Linked DNA regions of Homo sapiens: region 2 is linked to region 1. The links come from fine-mapping of genetic effects on gene expression. A gene starts in region 1. The other region holds a variant in brackets. All regions are shown on one strand. Distances are between the middles of the regions.

What was found. PIP is the estimated chance that this variant, and not a neighbour inherited with it, causes the effect.
Region 2: its variant is fine-mapped to the expression of CDC27 in whole blood (TOPMed, PIP above 0.99).

The regions. Positions count from the first base shown.
Region 1 is chr17:47,185,492-47,193,828 of GRCh38, forward strand. CDC27 (cell division cycle 27) reads right to left here and starts at 3,804. Exons shown (of 19, transcript NM_001256.6): 1 at 3,655-3,804. The coding sequence starts at 3,681. It also overlaps a transcript of MYL4 not described here. RefSeq lists a silencer at 3,329-3,378 and enhancers at 3,412-4,008, 3,539-3,728.
Region 2 is chr17:47,145,318-47,153,654 of GRCh38, forward strand. It overlaps CDC27 (cell division cycle 27), which reads right to left. Exons shown (of 19, transcript NM_001256.6): 9 at 6,489-6,601. Among named protein-coding and RNA genes, the nearest start is that of CDC27, 40 kb to the right of the region's middle. The variant C/A (reference allele first, on the strand shown) is at 4,659.

The DNA of each region.
Region 1 (8,337 bases):
TATAAATTTTTTGTTAGAGAAAGCTTATTACAAAAAATTTGTTTACTTGTTTTTGTTAAATTTTTTATACATTTTGTGTTCTTGTTTTTGTCAAAAAAGCTGTCTTTATTTTATTTTATTTGTTGGTCTTGAACTCCTTGGCTCAAGTGATCTGTCTGCCTCAGCCTCTGAAAGTGCTGGGATTACAAGCGTGAGCCACTGTGCCCAGTCAGCTGCCCTTTTTTAAAAACCATAAAATAAATGGATAATAAAGGCTTCAGACAATGTAAGAAGATACAAAGAAAAAAATCACTGTTGAAATTTCATATTATACATTATAATTGAATTTCTAGGATACTGATTTAGTTTAGATGCACGTCAGTGGTTCTTACTCTGGGCAATTTTGCCTTCTTACTCCCAATTAATGCCCCAACATTTAGCAATGTCTAGAGGGTATTTTTGGTTGTCACAAATGGAGGGGTCATCCAGTGGTTAGAAGCCAGGGATGCTACAAAACATTCTACAATGCACAGCTTCCAACAAAGTATTAGCTTGCCCCAAATGTCAATAGTGCTCAGATTAAGCAGCCCTGGTCTACATGATCATGCAGTTGGATTATTCTACTAGTCTGTATGTCTAACTCTTGTCTCTTCCTCCCTTTCCAACAGCACCAGATAAATATTCCCAAAGTGGTGCTTTTATTACATAATTCCTCTGCTCAAAAACTCTTCTGCTCATATAATGGTTATTCATTACCAATGCACATTAAATCTAAATTTCTCATTGAGTAGCCAAAATATGTTACTCTTTGAATCCATGTTAGATGCTGTCCCTGAACATTTTATCCCCAGCCAAGAGTACTCCTTCACCATCTAATGATCTCTAAAACAGTATCATGTATATAGTACCCAATTGCTATATTGCTTATTAAATTAATTTTCGAAAGGCTTATTTACAACTTCATCCAACACTTCTGTGAAGTCTTACCCCTAGGAATAATTGCTAAATCTATATAAAATCTCTTTGCTTCTTTTTTAAAAACCAATTTCACCAGGTGACTTTTATAAATATTCAAAAAGCTCTCACTGAAGTCACTTAGGCTAGTGTGTCTTTCCAAATAGTTACCATTAAAAATAAAAGAACTGACAGAAATTCTGCCTCATATGTGAGACTTTTGTAAGGACTCAAATATAAAGTAATACTCTTCTGAGAGGTAGTAATTTGAGACGGAGTTTTAATTTAGGCATATATGGTATATCGGACTGGCCATTCTACATTAAAACTTTAAAGAAAAAAAAATGCAGAAAACAGTTCTTCATATTTTCTGTGAACTTTTTCCTATGCCTAGTAATACCATCAACTCTGAGGCATTCCAAGAAAGAACAATTTTCCAACTTACTCTCATTGCTTTCCAAATACACGCAATCTGTCATCATAGTTTTTTTTTTAATAAAGACAGTATCTTATATATCTGTCCTATTTTTATTCTCTTCCTAATTCTTTCCCATTTGCAGCACTATCCCTGATCATTGATCTTTATCATTGTAGCCAAAGTTGCTTGTTCTTCTCACTGTTCCAAATCCATTCTTGAATGGCTTCTTATACTATACAACCAAAATTTTCACCTAGTCATATCCTAAAACTTTCTACCACTATCTCAAAAATCTAATGGACAATGCTGCTATGAAAAAGAAGCAAATTTGACATTTAAGCCTTAAAAATATCAAAGTGTATTACTGCTCAGAGTACTTTAAGGACAAACAGGAAACCTGATGGGTACTATCTAGAAACAGGCTACATATTCCTTTTCTTTTCCATGCTTTTATTTTTTATTTATTTATTTATTTTGAGATGGAGTCTCACTCTGTCGCCCAGGCTGGAGTGCAGCGGGACCATGTCGGCTCACTGCAAACTCCATCTCCTGGGTTCAGGCAATTCTCCTGCCTCAGCCTCCCAAGTAGCTGGGATTACAGGCGCCCACCACCACGCCTGGCTAATTTTTTATATTTTTAGTAGAGACAGGGTTTCACTGTGTTGGCCAGGCAGGTCTCGAACTCCTGACCTCAGGTGATCCACCCGCCTCAGCCTCCCAAAGTGCTGGGATTTCAGGTGTAAGCCACCACGCCCGGCCTTCCATGCTTTTATAAAGTCTGAAATTATTATTAAATGGTGGTTATAGTCTATCAATGCAACTAGTTTATCACTTTAGAAGACTTCTGGGGCCAGAGAAGGCAAAAAAAAAAAAATCATTAACTATTAAAACAAAATTATAAGAATATGCAACAGAAATTAAATAACTTGAGTAATCTGCTTATCTATTTAAGTTCATGTTAGGCCTTAAAAAATTATATATATATAATTACCTCATCTACAGCCAGAATAAAAAAAAATCTTAAAAGAAACTATACTGGTAAAAAGAATTTGGATGGAAATAGCTCTAGAAAAACTAATACAACTTACAGACAGGTAAATTTCATAAGATATAATCTTACGTTTTATTAATTCAAACACTAATAGCTGCTATATGTAAACAGCTGGAGAAAAAAACCAAACTAGAAGAAATGAGTATTTCATGCTGTTTAGAAAAATGAAATAAATATGAAAGTAGTGATATATTAAAATATTTACTGTTTGATACCTCAAGCCTTTTAAGGGCAATATGAAGGAATTTCTAAAAATCAGTTTGCTTTATAACTTCAAAATAAAGTCCATGACTCAATGACAGCAGTTGATAGAGGTCAATTCTGATCAAGTTAAAGATCATATAGTGGGATGAAGTCTCCCAGACCTGGTCCATTACCAAGGCACAAAAGATACAGTTTCTCCAGATGTCAGGGGGGAAAATGACTTGGCACCGCATCACACACTTAAAATCCAATAGGGTTCCTTTAATGCAACACAGCACTGTGCGTCAAAGCATACCCTGGTGTAAAGGCAGTGAAATGGACAGAAACACCATTATTTGTGTTTCATTTCCTGAATGCCTTATAAACATGCACAACAAAATGCTCCTGATCCCCATCAGAGAGGATGAAAACAACCCAAATGTGCCCTTTCCACCTCCTCCCCTGGTATTGGTGCTTGCGCCTCAGCACTGAGGCTTGGAGTTGTCTTCTCAAACCATCATTGTCCGGTGGGAAATTCACCGAGAAAGGAAACGTGGGATAGGAAGTCTGTTACCAAAATAGAAATTAGTATTAAAAAGACCGATCCTACGCTCCCTCCACCCTCTCATACAAGACAAAATAAAAAAAACCTCCGTAAACTTGCCCTACCGTCACGAAGATCACACAAGCTCCGATCAAATGTGCTTCTCGATCATCTTTTAGGCAAGAGAGCGCTTGGGGTGCATTTTCGGCCCCTCATCTCCCACCCCCAGTCAAGCCAGGCCCCTGGACTGACAGGAAAGGCTGGCCGGACGTTGGCTCGGACGGGAAAGGCGGTTATTTTCGCCGAAGCCGCTCACGCTAAGGGTGAAGTAATGTAGGGCCAGAGGTAACACGGCTTAGGCTGTGGGCAAGGCCTCCGAACTGACTAAAGATAGGCAGGACACGGCAGCAGGGGAGGCGGGAGAAGCAGCCGGGCCTAGGCCGCACCAGGCCGCGGAGTGGCCCTACGCTGCTGCTTCCCGACCGAGGCTGCCAGCCAAGCCCCAGAGAAGAAGGTTATCATTACCTGGACGGGTTCCTGCAGCACCGTCATCCTCGAGGCTCAGGCCCACTTTCTGCAGTGCCTCAGGCCCCCCCTGTAGCGGCTCCGGCCCGGCCAGCCCCTGCTCATTTAAACTCACCAGCGACCGTTACCGGGGGATGGGGGAGGCCGAGCGATTGCCGAGTGCTTCCGAGCGGGACACGGGAATACCCGAAGTGGAGAAAGCCGAGCGGGAACCAGACGGAAAAGCCCGAAGGGAGTCGGAAATACCCGAGGTTGGTCGACGAGAGAGAAAACCGTTGCCGGAAATTGTCGAAGATTACCGGAAGCTACCGAGTCTGACCCAAAGCGTAGGTTTCTCTTCTCAGCCACGCCTTCAGCCACGCACACCACGCCCAATCGGCCGTCCCAGGGTTGGGCTACGCCAAATCTGCAACCAGCAGGCTGGGCGTGGCGTGACAGCGCGGGCGGGTAGCGTTACGTGGCGGGGCTGCAGTGTGGATTAGCCCCTCAGCCCTTTTGGATTAATTGGTGTGCTGTAGATTATGAAGCAAAGGGTGAAACAGCAGAGTTTGGGGCTGTCTTTAATGAATCAACAAGTATTTGTCTATTGAGTTTAGATCATTCGTCCATTCCAGAAGTATCTACTCACGGCTCTGGGGGAAAGCTAAAGAAATTTGGAAAGATTGCCACTCCCCAAAGACATAGGATAGCTTCTGTCTTCAAGGAGATTAAGGTCTATTTAAGGGAAAAGCAGTGTAACAGAGAACGCTATATTATATGGTGCCTATTATAAGTAATATAAAAATTCAGAGAGGGCAATTGTGATAAGATAAGGAAAGTTCTATGGAAGGAAAAAAAAGTTTAAAATGGAGTTTGAAGGATGGGTAAAATTAGAGGAAAAAGAAGTATAGGAAAGTGAAGGGAGGAAAAATGGGATCAGTCTGCTAAGAAGGCATTAATTGGAAATAGTTACTTAGGTGAAGAGATCATGGAAAAGCTCAATAGGCCATTAGAAATTTTTATTTTTGATAGGTGAGGCATTCCGCTGTGGTGGGAAGAGTAGGGGGTCGGAAATTCAGAGGCCTGGTTTTGAATTTTATCTTTAGCACTAACTAGTCATAGGTCCTTGGCAAATTACCTCTCTGAACTTATGTTCGCTTAGTTTGAAAAAAAAGGATTAAGAGAATTCGATGTATTATAAATGTGGCCGTGTCTAGCATGCAATGTAGACTCTCTCATATTTCCTTTCTGCTCCCCTTCTCCCCCCAAAAAGAGTGAACCAGGGGACTGTTTAAATTTTGTTTTTCAGCAGATGAGGAAACAGTTTTTGAAAGTTACTTTTCTAGTCAGGAGCTCTCTAGGCTAGATGTGAGAATCATGATATATTCCATTGCTTGGAAATTTCCCTTTGGGTGATGTTAGAGGGAGATATTTTTTCTTTCATTTTTAAAAACAAGGCTGACAGAGCTACACTGCATCCTTCTCCACCGCCTTGTCTTGTCACTGTATATATACTTATAGCCCCTAAAGGGCAGGTGCTAAGATGATTTTTGGCTGCCCTGTGCCCAGTTGCTTTAGCGGGATTATGCTGGATGACTTGAGTGGTAACAGACTTTTACACTGGCCTGGAAAGTAGCCATTAGCTATTTAAAGTTTAAGTTAAAATGAAATTAAAAATGAAGTTCTTCAGATGCCCTAGCCACATTCCAAGGATTCAGTAGCCCTGTATGTGGCTAGTGACTGCCATATTGGACAGTCACACAGATATAGAAGAACATCACCAGCACTGGCTTGGCTAGGGCTGAAAGATTCAAGATGGCTTCACTCACATGTCTAGGGTGTCAGTGGTAGCTATTGGCTGGGTCCTTCATTTCTTCTCTGCATGACCTCTCTTTTCACACTGGCCTCTTATGAGTCAGTAGTTTAGCTCCAGCTTCTTGACTTGGTGGTTGACAACAAAGTGCGCAAAAATAGAAGCTGTGAGGTCCCTTAGGCCTAGGCCTGTGAGCATCACTTCTTGTTGGTCAGAGTAAGACTCAGAGCCACCCTGGATTCACCAGGAGGAATAGTCTACTTCTTAATGGGAAGAGTGGCAAAGTAACACCACAAAGGGCGTGTGCCATGGGAGGAGTTTTTGGGTCATCTTTGGAAACAATCTACCACGCTAGATATGAGATGAGAGTATCTAAGATTGGGAATGGAAAGAAAGGGATAAGTAAGAGCTATCACTCTTAAAATGTGACCCTTTCAACTGAACACAGTACTCCAGATTTATTCTGAATAATTCAGAATGCAGTTGGACTATTATTATCTGGACACGTCTATTAAAGTGGACTACAGTTGTATTTACATTTTTTTTTTCCGAGACTGAGTCTTGCTCTGTTGCCCAGAGCTGGAGTGTAATGGCGCAATCTCGGCTGACTGCGTCCTCCGCCTCCGGGGTTCAAGCAATTCTCCTGTCTCAACGTCCCGAGTAGCTGGGATTGCAGGTGCGCACCACCACGCCCGGTTAATTTTTGTATTTTTAGTAGAGACGGGGTTTCACCATGTTGGCCAGGCTGGTCTCAAACTCCTGATCTCATGATCCACCCATCTCGGCCTCCCAAAGTGCTGGGATTACAGGTGTGAGCCACTGTGCCCAGCCTGTATTTACATTTTTTAGCAGTCACATGACACTGTTTGCTCATGCTAAACTTGTGTGGTCATTTACGGACTCAGCTCTTTTTCACACAACATGCTGCCAACCCAAGTCTTGTATGTGTGCAGCAGAGTTTTGTAAACCTAAATATAGGACCTTACCACAGAGGATACATAAAGATGATACTTTGTGAAAATATGGATCTAGAGTCAGCATTTAAAGAGCCTCTGATGCTTGGCACTCTGGCTTATAGGCTTAGAATTTGCCTAAAGCCTTTTTTCTTTTTTTAACCTAAAAAAGAGCATTTCCTGGCTGGGTGAGGTGGCTCACGCCTGTAATCCCAACACTTTGGGAGGCCAATGCAGACGGATCACCTGAGGTCAGGCGTTCCAGACCAGCCTGACCAACATGGAGAAAACCTGTCTCTACTAAAAATACCAAATTAGCTGGGCGTGGTGGCACATGCCTGTAATCCCAGCTACTTGGGAGGCTGAGGCAGGAGAATCGCTTGAACCTGGGAGGTGGAGGTTGCGGTGAGCTGAGATTGCGCCATTGTTCTCCAGCCTGGGCAACAAGAGCAAAACTCCGTCTCAAAAAAAAAAAAAGGCCAGGCGCGTTGGCTCACGCCTGTAATCCCAGCACTTTAGGAGGCCAAGGCGGGCAGATCACAAGGTCAGGAGATCGAGACCATCCTGGCTAACACAGTGAAACCCCATCTCTACTAAAAATACAAAAAATTGGCCGGGCGTGGTGGTGGGCACCTGTGGTCCCCAGCTGCTGGGGAGGCTGAGGCAGGAGAATGGCGTGAATCTGGGAGGCGGAGCTTGCGGTGAGCTGAGATCGGGCCACTGCACTCCAGCCTGGGTGACAGTGCAAGACTGTGTCTCAAAAAAAAAAAAGCATCTCCTTTCTGATTGTTGTTGACCAGGCTAATACATCTGTTGTGGTTTCTACTCATCCACAGCAAAGCCACATTGTTTGAAGTACTTTGATGGGGTATTTTGGAGTGTTTTTACTTCCTTCTCTGCTCCTAATTGACCTACTTAAACTCGCTATTCATCAACCACTTGGGCATCCTGCTGTCATCCGTTATCCAATATGTTTGGCTAGTGAGTGGAGTTGGGTTACAACAGCATTATTCCAAAAATGGAATTGGAAAATTATTTTTTCTCCTAAGCCTGCTTCTTGGTCTATTTCATATTCAGTCAGATTTGGAGGCTGGCATTTAGGGAACTATTCAAAAAGCTAGACGTGATATCAGTAGCAAAATGTAGGTCCCACTGAAACATAGCCCAGAGTAAGTGTACTCTCCTGAAGTCTTTCAGTCCTCCTTGTCTGTACCCTTCATTTTGTCCCTGTTGCGTGCGGTTTTATGGCCTCCTTACCTGACCTTGCACCCCACCACCCCCACCCCACCCTCACCATGTTTACTCTTTGGTCAAATCATCCTCTTCTTTTGGCTTCTCTAATGACACCATCTCCTAGCTTTCCTCCTACTGCTCTGTTTTTGTTTGTTTGTTTGTTTGAGAGAGTCTCGCTCTGTCACCCAGGCTGGAGTGCAATGGCGCTATCTCGGCTCACTGCAGCCTCCGTCTCCTGGGTTCAAGCGATTCTCCTGCCTCAGCCCCCTGAGTAGCTGAATTTACAGGTGTGCGCCACCACACCCAGCTAATTTTTGTATTTTCAGTAGAGACGGAGTTTCGCCATGTTGGCTGGGCTGGTCTCGAACTCTTGACCTCAAGTGATCTGCCTGCCTCAGCCTTCCAAAATGCTGGGATTACAGGCATGAGCCACTGCGCCTGGCCTACTGCTCTGTTTTTTAATCGGTTTCCTTTGCAGCTCCTCTGCCAGCCCCTTTAATATTAAGCATGCTTCAAGGACCTGTTCTAGGCCTTCTTCTCACCCACCCTACACATTCTTCTTAGGCAAAACTATCCTTTCTTTCTTTCTTTCCTTCCTTCCTTCCTTCCTTTCTTTCTTTCTTCCTTTTTCTTTCTCTTTCCTTTCTTTTGAGACAGAGTCTCACTCTGTCACCCAGGCTGGAGTGCAGTGGTGTGATCTCAGCC
Region 2 (8,337 bases), 40 kb before region 1:
GGCAGAGCACCAGAGAGAAGAGAGCTACAAAGAGGAGACCTACAAAGATCTGCAGAGGGCTTCCCTAGAGTCTTCAGTTGAAAATTGATCAGTGTAGGTGTTTGAGTGTTATATAATAAAGAATTTGTCTGGTCCACGTCCCAGGCTCCTGAGATCTACTAAGTCCTTGGAATTCCTCAAGTGACAGGGATGTCTTTGTTATTCATTATGAGCTCCTGGGACCGTGCCTGAATTTATGCTAATGAAGTAACTCCTAGATACTTTCTGGATGGGTGCTGGCTGTGCTGTAAAGGTCAACCATGTGGCCGGGCATGGTGGCTCACACATGTAATCCCAGCACTTTGGCAGGCCAAGGCAGGCGGATCACGAGGTCAAGAGATCGAGATCATCCTGGCCAACATGGTGGAACCCCATCTCTACTAAAAATACAAAAATTAGCTGGGCATGATGGCGGGTGCCTGTAATCCCAGCCACTCGCGGGTTCAAGTGTAATCACTTGAACCCGGGAGGTGGAGGTTGCAGTGAGCCAAGATCGTGCCATTGCATTGCAGCCTGGGCGACAACAGCGAAACTCTGTCTCAAAAAAAAAAAAGTCAACCATGTGATTAGAGGGCTGGGGCTTTGAGCCAGCAACACCAGCCTGAGCTCCTCTGGGAAGGAAATTGAGTTCAATCATGTGGCCAATGATTCCATCAATCACACCTACATAATTTAAAAACCCTAATAAAAATTTTGAACACCAAAACTTGGCTCAAATTCCTGGTTTGTAAACATACTGATGCATTGGGAGGGTGAGCCCAGAAAGAAGACATGAAAGCTCTGTATCAGGACCCTCCCATATCTAATCCTATGGATCTCCTAATTATGTCATCTACAATAAAACTGTAATCATTAAGTATAGCACTTTCCTGGACTCTGTGAGGTGCTCTAGCAAATTACTGAATGTAAGAGGGTAGTAGGAATCCTTAAATTTGTAGCCAGTTGGTCAGAAATGTGGGTGGCCTGGGGAACCCAGAACCTACAACTGGGCAGTTCAGACAGTTCTTGTTGGGGACTGTGATCTTAACCTGTGGTGTCTGTGCTAAGTTTGGGTAGTTAGCATCAGAATTACATTATAGTACTATAGTGAAGAAACTACCCAAAGCTGGGGAAAGTATTACTGAAAAGAAGCAGACAGAATAATTACTGGATCTCACTCCAAGCTGGGAATAGCTCATACTTTCAATAGGCAGAGTGAAGAAACCTCATACTAAACAGGTTTTTGAGGAGAGTACTCAAAGGGTACTTCCTCAATGGTGGGACAAGATTAGTCCAGACTAAGGCTACTTTTGTCTGGACAAAATTTAAAAGGTAAGACCTGAAGGGATCAAGCTGTTTCCAAGCAACTTTACTGCATCTCAGAATAAAACTTTAAAATACCTAAAGGAATGCAAAAATATCCAGTAATCAACAATGTAAAATTTATAGCCAGGCACAGTGGCTCACACCTGTAATCCCAACAACTCGGGTGGGTGAGGTGGGAGGATTGCTTGAGGCCAGGAGTTTGAGAACAGCCTGAGCAACACAGCAAGACCCCATCTCTGCAAAACTAAAAAAAAATTAGCCATATGTGGCACGTGCCTATAGTTCCAGCTACCCAGGAGCCTGAAGTGGGAGGACTTCTTGAGCCCAGGAGTTTGAGGCTGCACTGAGCTATAATCACACCACTGTACTCTAGCCTGGGCATCAGAGTAAAAGACCCTGTCTCAAAGAAAAAAAGTAAAATTTATAATAACTGACATCCAATTAAAAAACACTAGGCAGCCGGGCGCGGTGGCTCACGCCTGTAATCCCAGCACTTTGGGAGGCCGAGACGGGCGGATCACGAGGTCAGGAGATCGAGACCATCCTGGCTAACACGGTGAAACCCCGTCTCTACTAAAAATACAAAAATTAGCTGGGCATGGTGGCGCGCGCCTGTAGTCCCAGCTACACGGGAGGCTGAGGCAGGAGAATGGCGTGAACCCGGGAGGCGGAGCTTGCAGTGAGTCGAGATCGCGCCACTGCACTCCAGCCTGGGCGACAGAGCGAAACTCCGTCTCAAAAACAAACAAACAAACAAACAAACAAACAAAAAAAAAAACACTAGGCATAGAAAACAGCAGGAAAATATAATCTACAATGAAGAGGAAAAGTAATATAAGAAACACTTAGAAATAACAAAGTAACAGACTTAGTAGGCAAAAACATTAAAAAAATACAAATACATCCTATACGTTCAAAAACATAGAAGAGACTGGATGAGGTGGCTCATGCCTGTCGGCCCAGCACTTTGGGAGGCCAAGCCAGGACTGCTTCAGGCCCGGAGGTCAAGATCTGCCTGGACAACATAGCAAGACCTTGTCTCATAGAGACCTTGTCCTTGTCTCTACAAAAAAATAAAAAATAAAAATAATCAGCCACATGTGGTGGCATGTGCCTGTAGTCCCAGCTACTCAGGAGGCTAACGCAAGAGAATCGCTTGAGCCAAGGAGTTTGAGGCTACAGTGAGCCATAGTAGCATCACTGCACTCCAGCCTGGGTGACAGTGAGACCCTGTCTCAAAAAAAAAAAAAAAAAAAAGGCTGGGCGCGGTGGCTCACACCTGTAATCCCAGCACTTTCGGAGGCCAAGGTGGGCGGATCACGAGTCAGGAGTTTGAGATCAGCCTGACCAACATGGTGAAACCCCATCTCTACTAAAAATACAAAAATTAGCAGGGCGCAGTGGCACATGCCTGTAATCCCAGCTACTCAGGAGGCTGAGGCAGGAGAATCGCTTGAACCCAGGAGGGGCGGAGGGTGCAGTGAGCCAGATTGTGCCACTGCACTCCAGCCTGGGCAACAGAGCGAGACTCTATCTCAAAAAAAAAAAAAAAGAAAGAAAGAAAACCAAATCAATCTAGAGATGAAAGACAAATGTCTGCAATAAAAAAACAAAACAAAACAAAAAACCCAACAACACTGGGTGTGGTTAATAACAGGTCTGACACTGCTGAAGAAACATTAATTTGAAGACATAGCAATAAACACTATCCAAAATGAAACACGGAGAGGAGAAAGATTGGAAACAAAAATGAAGAATTAGTGAGCTGTGGGGCAACTTCAAGCAATCTAATATACAAGTACCTGGAGTCCCAGAGGGAGAGGGTAAGACATGGACATAATATTTGAAGAAATAATGCCCCCAATTTAGCCAACTATTATGAAAACTATAAACCCACAGATCCAAGAAGCTCAATAAATCCAAAGGCCGAGAAACAACAAAGCTACACTAGAGCACATCATAATCGAATTGCTTAAAATCAGCAATTAAAAACAAAACCTTGAAACAGAGAAAAGACATATTACTACATATAGAGGAACAAAAATGAGATTGACAGCAGATTTCTTGTCAGAAACAATATAAGCCAAAAAACCAGTAAAGCAACATCCCTAAAAAAATTGTCAATTAGAAATTCTTGGCCAGGCGTAGTGGCTCATGCCTGTAATCTCAGCACTTTGGGAGGCCAAGATGGGCGATCACCTGAGGTCAGGAATTCAAGACTAGCCTGGCCAACATGGTGAAAGCCAATCTCTACTAAAAATGCAAAAATTAGCTGAGCATGATAGCACATGCCTGTAATCCCAGCTACTCGGGAGGCCGTGGCAGGAGAATTGCTTGAACTCGGGAAGCAGAGGTTGCAGGGAGCCAAGATTGTGCCATTGCACTCCAGCCCAGGCAACAAGCAAGACTCTGTCTCAAAAAAAAAAAAAAAAAAAGAAAAAGAAAGAAATTCTTGCCTAGTAAAAATATTGTTCAAAAATAAAGATGAAATAAGAACTTTTTTTCTGATCCACAAAAGCTGAAAAAATTCATTACCAGCTGACTCGTACTATAAGAAATGATAAAAAGGCCAGGTGCGGTGGGGCTCATGACTGTAATCCCAGCACTTCGGGAGGCCAAGGCAGGAGGATCACAAGGTCAAGAGATCGGGACCATCCTGGCCAACATGGTGAAACCCCGTTTCTACTAAAAATACAAAAATTAGCTGGGTGTGGTGGTGCACACCTGTAGTCCCAGCTACTCGGGAGGCTGAGGCAGGAGAATCGCTTTAACCCAGGTGGCAGAAGTTGCAGTGAGCCGAGATCGTGCCACTGCACTTCAGCCTGGTGACAGAGTGAGACTCTGTCTTAAAAAAAAAAAAAAAAAAAAAGAAATGTTAAAAAGAAGTCCTTCAAGGTGGAGGAAAATGATATCAGATCGCAATCTGGATCTATAGAAGGAAAGGGCACCAGAAATTGTAGTTATGTGTGTAAATATAAAATAGACTTCTTTTTCTCATTTAAAAAAATTTCAGCTGGGCATGGTAGCTCATGCCTGTAATCCCAGCACTTTGGGAGGCTGAGGCGGGTGGATCATTTGAGGTCAGGAGTTTGACGCTAGCCTGGCCAACATCGTGAAACCCTGTCTCTACTAAAAATACAAAAATTAGCCGGGCGTGGTGGCACATGCCTGTAATCCCAGCTACATGGGAGGCTGAGGCAGTAGCATTGCTTGAACTGGGGAGGTGGAGGTTGCAGTGAGCCGAGATTGCACCATTGCACTACAGCCTGGGTAACAGAGCGAAACTCCGTCTAAAACAAAAACAAAAACAAAAA[C/A]AAAACTCTATAAAAAGACAACTGACTGTTTAAGGCAGAAACCACAACCACAATAATGCACTGTGGGGTTTATAACATATATAGAAATTAAATATATTACAGCCATCCCTCCCATAAAGACTAAGAGAGGAGCACGAAAGTATACTATTGTAAGGTTCTGTGCTATACATGAAATTGTCTATTACTTGAAGGCAAACCTTGATAAGTTAAAATGTTTACTACAAACTCCAAACAACCTTTAAAAAGACAAAATAAAGAGCAATTGCTAATAAGGCAATATTGAATTGTACCTCCCCAAAAGATATGTTGAAGCCCTAAGCCCCAGTACATGTCAATGTGATTTTATTCAGAAATTTGGTTTTTGCAGATGTCATTGAGTTAAGCTGAGGATATCTGGGTTGACCCTAATCCAATATAACTGTTGTCTTTACAAGAGGGAAATTTAGATACAGAAACACACATGGAAGATGACCATGTGAAGACAGAGGAAGATACTGAGTTATACTGTCACATGCTAAAGAACACCTGGGGTTATCAGAAGCTGGAGGAGGCAAGGAAAAATCCTCCTCTAAAGATTTTGGAAGGGGAACAACCCTGCCAACACCTTGATTTTGGACTTATGGCTTTACAACTGTAAGAGAATAAGTATCTGTTGTTTTAAGACACTAAGTTGTGGTACTTTGTTATGGCAGCCCTAGAAAACTAATATAGGCAATTAAGGAGATAAAATGGAATCAACAATACAAAGAACACAAAATTATTAAGAGTGAATGTTGGCCAGGCACGGTGGCTCATGCCTGTAATCCCAGCACTTTGGGAGGCTGAGGCAGGCGGATCACCTGAGGTTGGGAGTTCGAGACCAGCCTGACCAACATGGAGAAACCCTGTCTTTACTAAAAATACAAAATTAGCTGGGTGTGGTGACACATGCCTATAATCCCAGCTACTCAGGAAGCTGAGGCAGGAGAATCACTTGAACCCGGGAGGCGGAGGTTGTGGTGGGCCGAGATCACACCACTGCACTCCAGCTTGGGCAACAAGAGTGAAACTCCATCTCCATAAAAAAAAGAGCTGATGTTTATTAGTGTTAGTCTATTTGTTTGACTCTAAAGTGAAATGTACAAATCGGAAATTATTTTTACATATAATGTTGCTTTGCAGGAGGTCTCAAGTTCCTTCTCACAACAGAGCCTCAGGCAATCACTGCAAGCTGGCACTCAAGAGGATTAGACTTACCATTCTGGGAGCATTACAGGAACATAGAGGTCTTTTAGATAGTCAAGGAGGTATATGCACACCTGTGTGTATGTCTGTTTTAAAATTTAGGTACATGTTCACAGTTTTAGAAAGGAGAAAGAAAATTGTATCTTCCTTTTAAAATGTTAGCTATAATCTATTGAGTCCTTGAAGAGGAAAAGAAAATCCTATCTAACACCATTTCTGTGTGGAAATAGATTCATTATTTGAAGTTTATTTGTCTGTTATTTTTATAATCTGTTTATAGACATGCATAATGTGGGGAAGGGGAGTATGAAACCTATCTGTACCTAAACTATAGAAAGGGTCATGTGCATAAGAAGAAAATTACAAATCCATGAGGCAATCAGAGTAAACTAAAATGCTGCTTTAGTTAACTATTGTCTTCTGTGCATTACAAAACTCAACTCAAAATTACATTAGTGTTGTAAGTTAGAGGTTTCAAATTTTACATCTTCAAAATTTACAGTAGTTATTCTAGAATCCACGAGAGTCACTATCTGCCTAAATTAAAGAAATGTAAAGAATCAAGTTTTATGCCAAGAAAAGTTGAATAATTACAATGATAAATACCTTGTTTGTGGACCAGAACTTTGTGTTTGTGCAAGAATTGGAGTTACCTCTCGGCTATTTCCACTCTGTGAGAAGACAGACTTTGTTCCAGTTTGGCCGATTCTGGCAACAGACTGTAAAACACGAAAAGTCTAAGGTTTGTGAATTATGGGCTGCACTGTAAATGATAAAAGACAACACAACGCTCCCATCTACATTTTCTCAATACAAGCAGCCATAATATACTGTCACCTTAAAGATAAACTATTTATATCATATTGTTAATTATTGTTGTATTAGTATGAACATCAGTCTATTTCCCTGTTTTAATCTCACAGTATTTTTACCTCTATAATGTCTTTTCATCTTTCGCTTTTTGTTTCAAAGACTAAAAATCCCCAGAAGCTATTCTTTTCATCTCATTGTGACCATCCTCCATTTATTACATACCTTCTCTATTTGGGGTTAAGTACTAAAAAATTTTAAGACAGCTAAATTCTCAAGATTTATGATTTATCTCATTATACACAGAAAAAAATAATAATACGATAAGATTTTATACTCCTTTGGCACTTGGTAACAGTTCTAAAGGAGTTCAGAGGAGTAGATTTTAAAAAAACAACCATCTGATTACTTTCCAAAACCTAAGGATATTGTTCTTTAGAGTTAATATTGCTTAGTTTTTCTAATCTTCATTAATTGGTTTCTGTTCCCTTGGAGAAAAAAAAATCTTTGCTTGGCTCTTCAGTCTTCTCTAATTTATTCCCTTATTTCTATTCATTTCCACCATCTAGCTTCTTTAAATGATCTATGACTATTGTATCAGTGCACTGTTTTTCCCCTTTGGCTACCAGAGAATTTTCTTCAAAACTTACTGTTACCCTGATGTCCTGTACACAATCCTCAAACTGCATATTATAAATAATCACTAATAATCACTGTCTCATCAGATATTAAAACCTTATTTTAGCCTTTCCTGCATTCAACATCACTGATCATGCCCTACTTTTTGAAACTTTGTGTTACTTCCAAAACATTACATTATTTGTCCTGCCACTTCATTTGCTGGCCCTTTATCCTTCTACTATTTTTAAATTAGGTTTACTCTGTTCTCCTTAGCTACTCTTTCTTTCCCTAGGAGAGCCTGGTCATTTTAATAGTTTCAATTATTATTTCTATCAGCAGGTCACATTTTTTCCTCTATGACTAACTTTCTACTGAATATTTTCATCTAATGTACCACCACTTCAAAATAAAACTTCATAAGCCTTCCTCCGCCTTTTCCAAATTGGGATCACTACATTCATCCAAGGGACAAAAGTCAACTCTGGCTTTTCCTTATTTATCAAAGAACTATGTACACTGCACTCAATACCTGGTTTGATATTTTCAGTTGACACTGCATGCAGACCTACATGCGTGACTTTTCTGGGAATGTCTTGTAATAAGGTAAGAGGAGAACAGAGGCAGAAGAGGATGAGAGAGCAATCTTATCTGGGCACTAAAATCATGTGCCTGCCCACTGTCTTAACTTGCTCTGGTTATTATGGTTATTATGGCTCTTCTAGTTTTGGCCTACTTCACCTGGCATGCTAACTACCATTTTGTTTTGCCTTCTTCATAACTGTAATGTTTAAAACAATCCATACACAAACTATTTTGCAGTCCCTTTTAAGTATTCTTGGAGTTCCTATTATCACTCACTAAGGAGTTATTATAGAAAAATCTTTTGCAGATTCTAAGGATGTTCAGGAGTAAAATAGTAAAAAAACAACTATAAGAAGAAACATGTTTCTATTAAGGTAAAGAGAGTATAACTGTTATTCACATATTAGTATGACTTGTTTAGCTTCCATTTCTTGAATATTTA